Homo sapiens: one gene and its partner. The protein of the gene in region 1 purifies or fractionates together with the protein of each later gene. This does not show direct contact. Each region holds a gene or a part of one and is shown on either strand. Other genes may lie near its edges.

Region 1 (3,817 bases):
GCGGTTGCCCTGCCTCCCACTGGCTCCAGACTACAGGAAATGATCAATAAACTCAGTCTTCTCTTGAGGAGGAAAAGAGCAAAGTGCTTTTTGTCAGGGATTTAGACCAAAAAGCCACTTTTGAGTTAAGTTATGGAGTCAAGACCCGGGAGCCTGACTGCTTCACCTCGGCAGTGGTAATTCTTTCATGTGAGGAGTGACACAGACTCATTCACTTGACAAGTGTTTATTGGGTGCCTGGGTCCCTGTAAGACTTCCTTCTTCTAAGCCCAAGTCTCCAGGGTTCCTAGATCCTGCGAAGATTTCAAGGAAATATCTGAAGTTATAAGATGTGGCTAAGGACGCAGTTTCTGGCTTAACACAAGAAAATTAAATCTACCTTTCTTCTGCTCCTTCCTCAAGCTTTCTAGTCACCTAATATGACTTATGAAAAGAGAGTATTAACTAGAAGGAACCAGACAGAGCCTCTGTCACCCAGGTGGGAGTGCAGTGATGCAATCATAGCTCACTGCAGCCTGGACCTCCTAGGCTCAAGCGATCCACCTCAGCCTCCTGAGTAGGTGGAACCACAGGTGTGTGCCACCCTACCCAGCTAATTTTTATATTTTTTGTAGAGATGAAGTCTTGCTGTATTGCCCAGGCTGTTCTTGAACTCCTGGGCTCAAGCAGTCTTCCCACCTCAGCCTCCCAAAGCACTGGGATTACAGGCATGAGCCACTGCACTTGGCTAATTTTTTAAATTTTTTGTAGAGACAGGGTCTTGCTATGTTGCACAGGCTGGTCTCGAACTCTTGGCCTCAAGCAATCCTCCTGCCTCGGCCTCCCAAAATGCTGGTATTATAGGTGTGAGCCACTGCACCCATCCAAGAGCTTTTTTTCTTCTAGATTTCAAGAGGCCTCTTTTCCTGTCCTAAAAGATGGAGCTAAATTCTCTAACGTGCCCCATGCAGTGCCCACAAAATCTTCCTTTTCTTTCCTTTTCTGGGCGTCCTTGGGGCCCTGTACTTGCTGTCACCTGTGTCTGGGGTTCTCTTCTGCAGGTCTTTCCAGGCCTTCCCTGCATCCTCTGCCTTCCCTCCCCCGGCCACTCCCCGTCTTAGCAGGAGCCACTGCCTGGACTTCCCTCGCGTACCTGCTGCTGGTTTCATGTCACCTTCCCTGCCTGAATGTAAGCTCCCTAAGGACAAGGACTCCATCTTGTGTCCTGAATCCTGCCAGACTTCAGCCTTTTATCAGTGGCTGGTGTGGAGCGGTCTTTGGTCGCTTGCTGGAGGGTCCATCAAGGCTGTGTGAGGGACCTTCTTGTGGGTCTAGCAAGATGTGGCTCTGGGCCGTGCTGGTGGGTGGTGGGGTGGCCTAACGCACTCCTGGCCTCTCTTCCTCCCAACCCCCAGGCAATAGCGCCTTTAAGTCACCAGATGCGTTCAAGGTGTCCCTCCCACTCCGCACAAACTACCTATACGGCAAGATCAAGAAGACGCTGCCTGAGCTGTACGCCTTCACCATCTGCCTGTGGCTGCGGTCCAGCGCCTCACCAGGCATTGGCACCCCCTTCTCCTATGCGGTGCCAGGGCAGGCCAACGAGATCGTGCTGATCGAGTGGGGCAACAACCCCATCGAGCTGCTCATCAACGACAAGGTGAGGCCCGCCTGCACCGCCACCCTCCCCAGAACCCATCATGTGGTGGAGGGAGCCACAGCCCCCACCCCAGCCGTCCTCGCCCTCCTCGGGCCACACAGCAGTGTCCCAGACATGGGACTGCGGGGCTGTCCTCCTCGAGGTGGGGATAGCTTTGCACACGCCGGGCGGCTCACAGGGGCGGGGTGGGGAGGGGCCGAGCTGTGAGTCCAACCACCAAGCTGCAGAAGGTCCAGGCACCTAGGCCATGGAAGGGCAGAAGGAACAGATCTCCGTGTGCAGCCTGGATTGAGAGAGGACCTCAGGCCGGTCAGTGAGGGCTGTTCCCCAGGGCCACACTGATTAAGGGGGTGTGTGTGTCTCAGTGTAAGAGACTCCCCACAAGCATATTTTGGTGGGGGTCAGGTTTCTAGAGATATAATTTACATACAGCAAAGTGTACCCATTTTAATGTACAATTCAGGAAGTTTTAACAAATGCACACAGTTGTGTAACCACCACCACGATGAAAAAATATAAAACAGTTCCATCACCCCCCAAAACCCCCTCATACCCCTTCATAGTTAACTCTGATCCCAGCCCCAGCCCATGGCCATTGCTGACCTGTTATGTATACCCATGGTCTTGCCTTTTCCAGAGCAAATGCCCCTTCTTAATAGACTGCTTGGTTTTGGCATTCAGGAGTGGTCTTCTCAAGGGCTGGGCATGGTAGCTCATGCCTGTAATCCCAGTGTGTTGGGAGGCCGAGGCAGGAGGATTGCTTGAGCCCAGGAGTTCAAGAGCAGCCTGGGCAACATAGCAAGACCCCTTCTCTACAAAAAATTAGAAAGTTAGCTAGGTGTGGTGGTGTGCACCTGTAGTTCCAGCTACTCGGGAGGCTGAGGCAGGAAGATGGCTTTGAGCCCAGGATGTCGAGGCTGCAATGAACTATGATCGCACCACTGTACTCCAGCCTGGGTGACAGAGCGATACCCTGTCTCAAAAAAAAAAAAAAAAAAAAAAAGGCCACTTTGGGCCTCCTGGGGACCTCTCACAGCCCTGCTTCCAAACTTTCATTCTAATGGCAGACTCCATATAACAAAAAGAACATTCTCAGAACCTGTCCGGATTTGGGCATTTGAGTGGCTACGCAAACTCCCTGCCACCCGGGCCACCCCTGGTGGAGGCGGGGGCAGTTCAGCCCCTCACTCTGTTTGTCCTCACTGAACTGCCCTGGGTGGAGTCTGTCGAGGTTTAAAAAACGCTGTGGCATCAGCCTGCTGGGCTCCTCCTAGATAGACCCCCTTGCCTGAGCCAGGGGTTAAATAATTGTTCTAAATAACACCCTATGACACAGTGGGGCTAAGAGCCTTGTTGTCCTCTGGGTTTGGACGGCTTGTAAACATCGAATTCCTGGGAGGGAGGCTTCGGGTTGCTAGGAGACCAGCAGCAACAACGCGGTGGTTCATAGGCGAGCCTGCATAGAAAGTGCTTGCAGGACCGCCAGGGACCCGGCCAGTGGCAGCGTCCTCCCCCCAGTTCCTCACGCTGTCCGTGAGTTCCCTGCTCACACAGATACTCACACACGTGCCGCTGCGCAGGGAGGACGGGGCACACCCGCAGCACACAGATCCCTGCGTGCCATCATGGAGGTTTGGGACTTGGCATGAGGAATGAGGATCTCTCGTCTGTTTTCCAAGGAGACTGGCCCCATGGAACGCTGACTTCCCGAGTTTCTCTGGCATGGAGAGCTCAGGGCCAGCGTGGGGGTGTTGACCCTCACATCTGTTCGGTCCTCAGCCACGCCAGGCACCAAGGGTGTCCCATTAATGTGAGGGCTGCTCTGGGGTCAGGGTTTCCACCAAGGCTGCCCCCTTGCATGTTCTCCACGCATGACCCCGGTGACAGGAGGAGCAGTGTGGCCCAGGGGGACTGTGGGGTGTCCTTCCTGCTTCCTGCCCTGGGGGACCCTGAGGGCGTGGGCCCAGCAGGTCCTTACCTGCACATTGCTGCTCACAGGTTGCGCAGCTGCCCCTGTTTGTCAGTGACGGCAAGTGGCACCACATCTGTGTCACCTGGACGACACGGGATGGCATGTGGGAGGCATTCCAGGACGGAGAGAAGCTGGGCACTGGGGAGAACCTGGCCCCCTGGCACCCCATCAAGCCCGGGGGCGTGCTGATCCTTGGACAAGAGCAG
Region 2 (3,817 bases), on another chromosome or scaffold:
TTATTACTTGAAGAATTCAATATTTATTTCTGCCTTTTTGACTCCTTGACTGTAAAATACTGATCTGATCTGTAGAGAGAACAGTACATGGACCCGGGAATCCTCAGTGCCTTAATAGATCCTAAGTACTTACTTATTCTTTCCCATAGAGGCTTACACATGGTAGGAGAAGAGATTTCTGGAATACCTTTCCTCCCCAAAGAAAGCTGGTTTCTTTTGTTTGTTAAGTGAGAGAGTGGTACCACAGGGTTTCCAAGATTTCCAAGGCTGATGAAAATTCTTAACTTCTGTTGTCTGCTTGTCTTGCTTTCTTGAATTTATTTTTTGTATGTTATGTATTTATTATTTAGAGAGAGGATCTCCCTGTGTCACCCAGGCTGGAGTGCAGTGTTACAGTCATAACTCACGGCAGTGTCAACCTCCTGGGCTCAAGTGATTCTCCTTCCTTGGCCTCCTGAGTAGCTAGGAACACAGGCATGCTCCACTATGCCTGGCTATTTTTTTCCCCCTGGAGACAGGATCTTGTTGTGTTGCACAGGCTGGTTTCAAACTCTTGGCCTCAAAGCTAGCCTCCCACCTTGGTCTCTGAAAGTGCTAGAATTAAATAGAATTAAAGGTGTGACCAACTGCACCCAGCTTATTTATGATGATGATGATGATGATGATGATGATGATGATGATGATGTTTGGGAGATGGAGTCTCTGTCGCCCAGGCTGGAGTGCAATGGCACGATCTCAGCTGACTGCAACCTCTGGCTCACTGCAACCTCCACCTCCTGGGTTCAACTGATTTTTGTGCCTTAGCCTCCTGAGTAGCTGGGATTACAGGCACCCGCCATCATGCCTGGCTAATTTTTCTATTTTTGTAGAGACGGGGTTTCACCATGTTAGCCAGGCTGGTCTCAAACTCCTGACCTCAGGTGATCCGCCCACTTCGGCCTCCCAAAGTGCTGGGATTACAGGCATGAGCTGCTGCACCCAGCTCTATTTTTTGTTTTGTGGTAGGAAATTATAAAACATGGAATTATGCATTTGTCAGGCTTTAACTACTTTTGAAAAAATGTTGGAAAATATTTCTGTATGAAACGTAAAACAACTTTTAATTTTTTTTTAGAAGTCAATGAAAGGATTCTATTTTGCAAAGCTGTATTATGAAGCTAAAGAATATGATCTTGCTAAAAAGTAAGTACAAACCGTAACATGTATTCTTTTTTTTAAAATCAATGCCTTTTCTCATTTTCTTCTTTGAAATAGGTAAAAATATGTCCTTAGTAGTTCTTCCTAAGTGTATTCTGGAATAAGGGATTTATCACTCAGACTGATGCTAAGGACCAGCCTAGATTCCATTGAGATTGAAACTGTAATTAGTGTTTTCTGCATGCTGCTGCTTTATACCAAGGGCAAGAAATTGTTTGGCTTAAAACACTTTTTCTAAAAATTGTCTTCTGTTGGAGTAAAAGAGGACCATGCCTATATCTTAATTTGTTTTTGGTTAGATATCTGATACCTTAATCAGATGGAAAATAGCAATGAATAAAAAATTAAACTGTAATTGTAAGGCAGGAGAATAGCTTGTATAAAAGATCTTTAACTGACACAATATGTGATGCTCTAAGGCTCTATCCTAGGGATGAGAAGCTTGGTGATTCTGATTTCCTGGCTGGGAGTGGATTAAAGCAGGAAATTAAGAGGGAGGCAGGCTTTTTTTTTTTTTTTAGGCAGTATCTGTCTCTCTTGCTCCGGCTGGAGTGCAGCAGCTGGCTCCATCTTTGCTCACTGTAACCTCTGCCTTCTGGGCTCAAGCGATCTTCCCACCTCAGCGCCCCAAGTAGCTGGGGATACAGATGCGCACCACCACGTGGACCTGGCTAAGGTTTGCATTTTTTGGTAGAGACAGGTGTCACTATGTTGCCCAGGCTAGTCTTGAACTTCTGAGCACAGCAGTCTGCCTGCCTCGGCCTCCCATAGTGTTGGGACTACAGGTGTGTGTTACTGCTCCCAGCTGGGAGGCAGGCTTTTAAAGGCATCCAAAGGAAGATGGAAATGCTGGTAAGAAAGGAAAATGGTGGTACATAAATTATGTAACTAGCAGCACTGTGACTGTTAACTCTTGTACCTTTTTACTGTGAGACTTTAATCCCTTAGTTTAGGTCTGGCCTAATTTCTCTGATCGTAATACTGTCAAGGAACCTAGAGGATATTTACTTATTTTAGTTGTTACTTGATTTGAGAAATGGAAATTTCCTGTATTTGGTACTGTAATTAGTAATTTTTCTTCTGTTCGATTTTAGCTGGATATAGTACTGTTAGAAATTACTTTCTTGCTTAAAGGGTAAATGTATTTCCCTTTGTTGTTTGGGAAATTGTTGCTGTTTAGTATTTTGCATTATGATAACTTTAAAAATGTTTATTATAATCACTTCTAATTTATTGGCAAAACTGTTAGTGCTTTATTAAAATGTGATCAGGAAGAAAAAGCAATCTATATGTTCATTTCTTATGTGTGGTTAACACTGGAGAAAAATTTGGTAAATGTGACATTTAATGGTAAAATGAGTATGTGGTCAACTCTATGTACGTGTTTTTAAGTATTACCCATTTCTTTCTATGAATACTTTTGAGTTATCTGCATAAATAGTGGTAGTTTTGAGTAACAATATAAACGAGTTTAGTGGTTGCTTTGGTTTAAGATGTATTCTTCGGTTAGCATTTAAAAGTACAGTTCTAAGTTTAATTTACTTTTGTATTACTTTTAAAAAACAGATACATATGTACTTACATTAATGTGCAAGAGAGGGATCCCAAAGCTCACAGATTTCTGGGTCTTCTTTATGAATTGGAAGAAAACACAGAGAAAGCCGTTGAATGTTACAGGGTAAGTTATAAGATTCAAATATAGCCTTTGCGTAGCCAAACACATGATGCCCAGAGAAATTTATATAAGTAAGTCAAATATATTTTATGAATATCATAAAACAGGCATTGGTATCATAGTACAATTATGTGATACAGCTTGGAACAGATTTAGAATTGTTTAACACCTATAAATTGTAAGTCTAACACGGTCAGAAATGGTGTTCTTTTGTGTTTTTTGCATTCAAATGACACAAATATAATTTTTATTTGATTCATTTCTAGAAAATTCCAAGACACTTTTATTTTAACACCTTTAAAGTAACATGTTTTCTCTAGAAGTAGAATTTTTTAAGGGTTGGAGTGATAATTTTTAACCTTTATGTATAAGTATATATACTCCTACATACATACATACAATTTATTTACTAATCTTTAATTTCTTTTCTGATATTAGCGTTCAGTGGAATTAAACCCAACACAAAAAGATCTTGTGTTGAAGATTGCAGAATTGCTTTGTAAAAATGATGTTACTGATGGAAGAGCAAAATACTGGGTCGAAAGAGCAGCAAAACTTTTCCCAGGAAGTCCTGCAATTTATAAACTAAAGGTAAACAAACAAAACATAAAGGGAGAAAACTTAAGACATAACCATTTCTAATATTTGGAGTTTAAATTACTTTTCAATAGCAAACCTTAAGCTCAGGTGTTTGTGTTTCCTTTAACATTTTTCTTTTAAAAAGTGTATTAAAACCTTTCTGAGCATCTACTGTCTTATTAGGCATTGTTATACTTTATAAGTGACATCTCATTTACCCTTCTGGAATAATTAATATTTTAGGGATTTTACAGTTTAGTAGCTGTAAACTAAGTAGAGCTAAGATTTACATTAAGTTCTGTCTGATATACAATTTTTGCTTCATTAAGTGAAAATTACCTACAGGATGACAATTTAGGGATATTT

Evidence for each region.
Region 2: the proteins of NPTX2 (region 1) and RGPD5 purify together in Homo sapiens (affinity purification with mass spectrometry, with the first as the bait; one large-scale study listed by BioGRID). This does not show direct contact.

The regions. Positions count from the first base shown.
Region 1 is NC_000007.14:98,623,528-98,627,344, forward strand, and holds part of NPTX2 (neuronal pentraxin-2 precursor), read left to right. Parts: intron 1-1,394; coding exon 1,395-1,639; intron 1,640-3,637; coding exon 3,638-3,817. UniProt on the Homo sapiens protein: Likely to play role in the modification of cellular properties that underlie long-term plasticity. Binds to agar matrix in a calcium-dependent manner.
Region 2 is NC_000002.12:109,800,669-109,804,485, forward strand, and holds part of RGPD5 (RANBP2-like and GRIP domain-containing protein 5/6), read left to right. Parts: intron 1-1,114; coding exon 1,115-1,182; intron 1,183-2,763; coding exon 2,764-2,875; intron 2,876-3,310; coding exon 3,311-3,463; intron 3,464-3,817.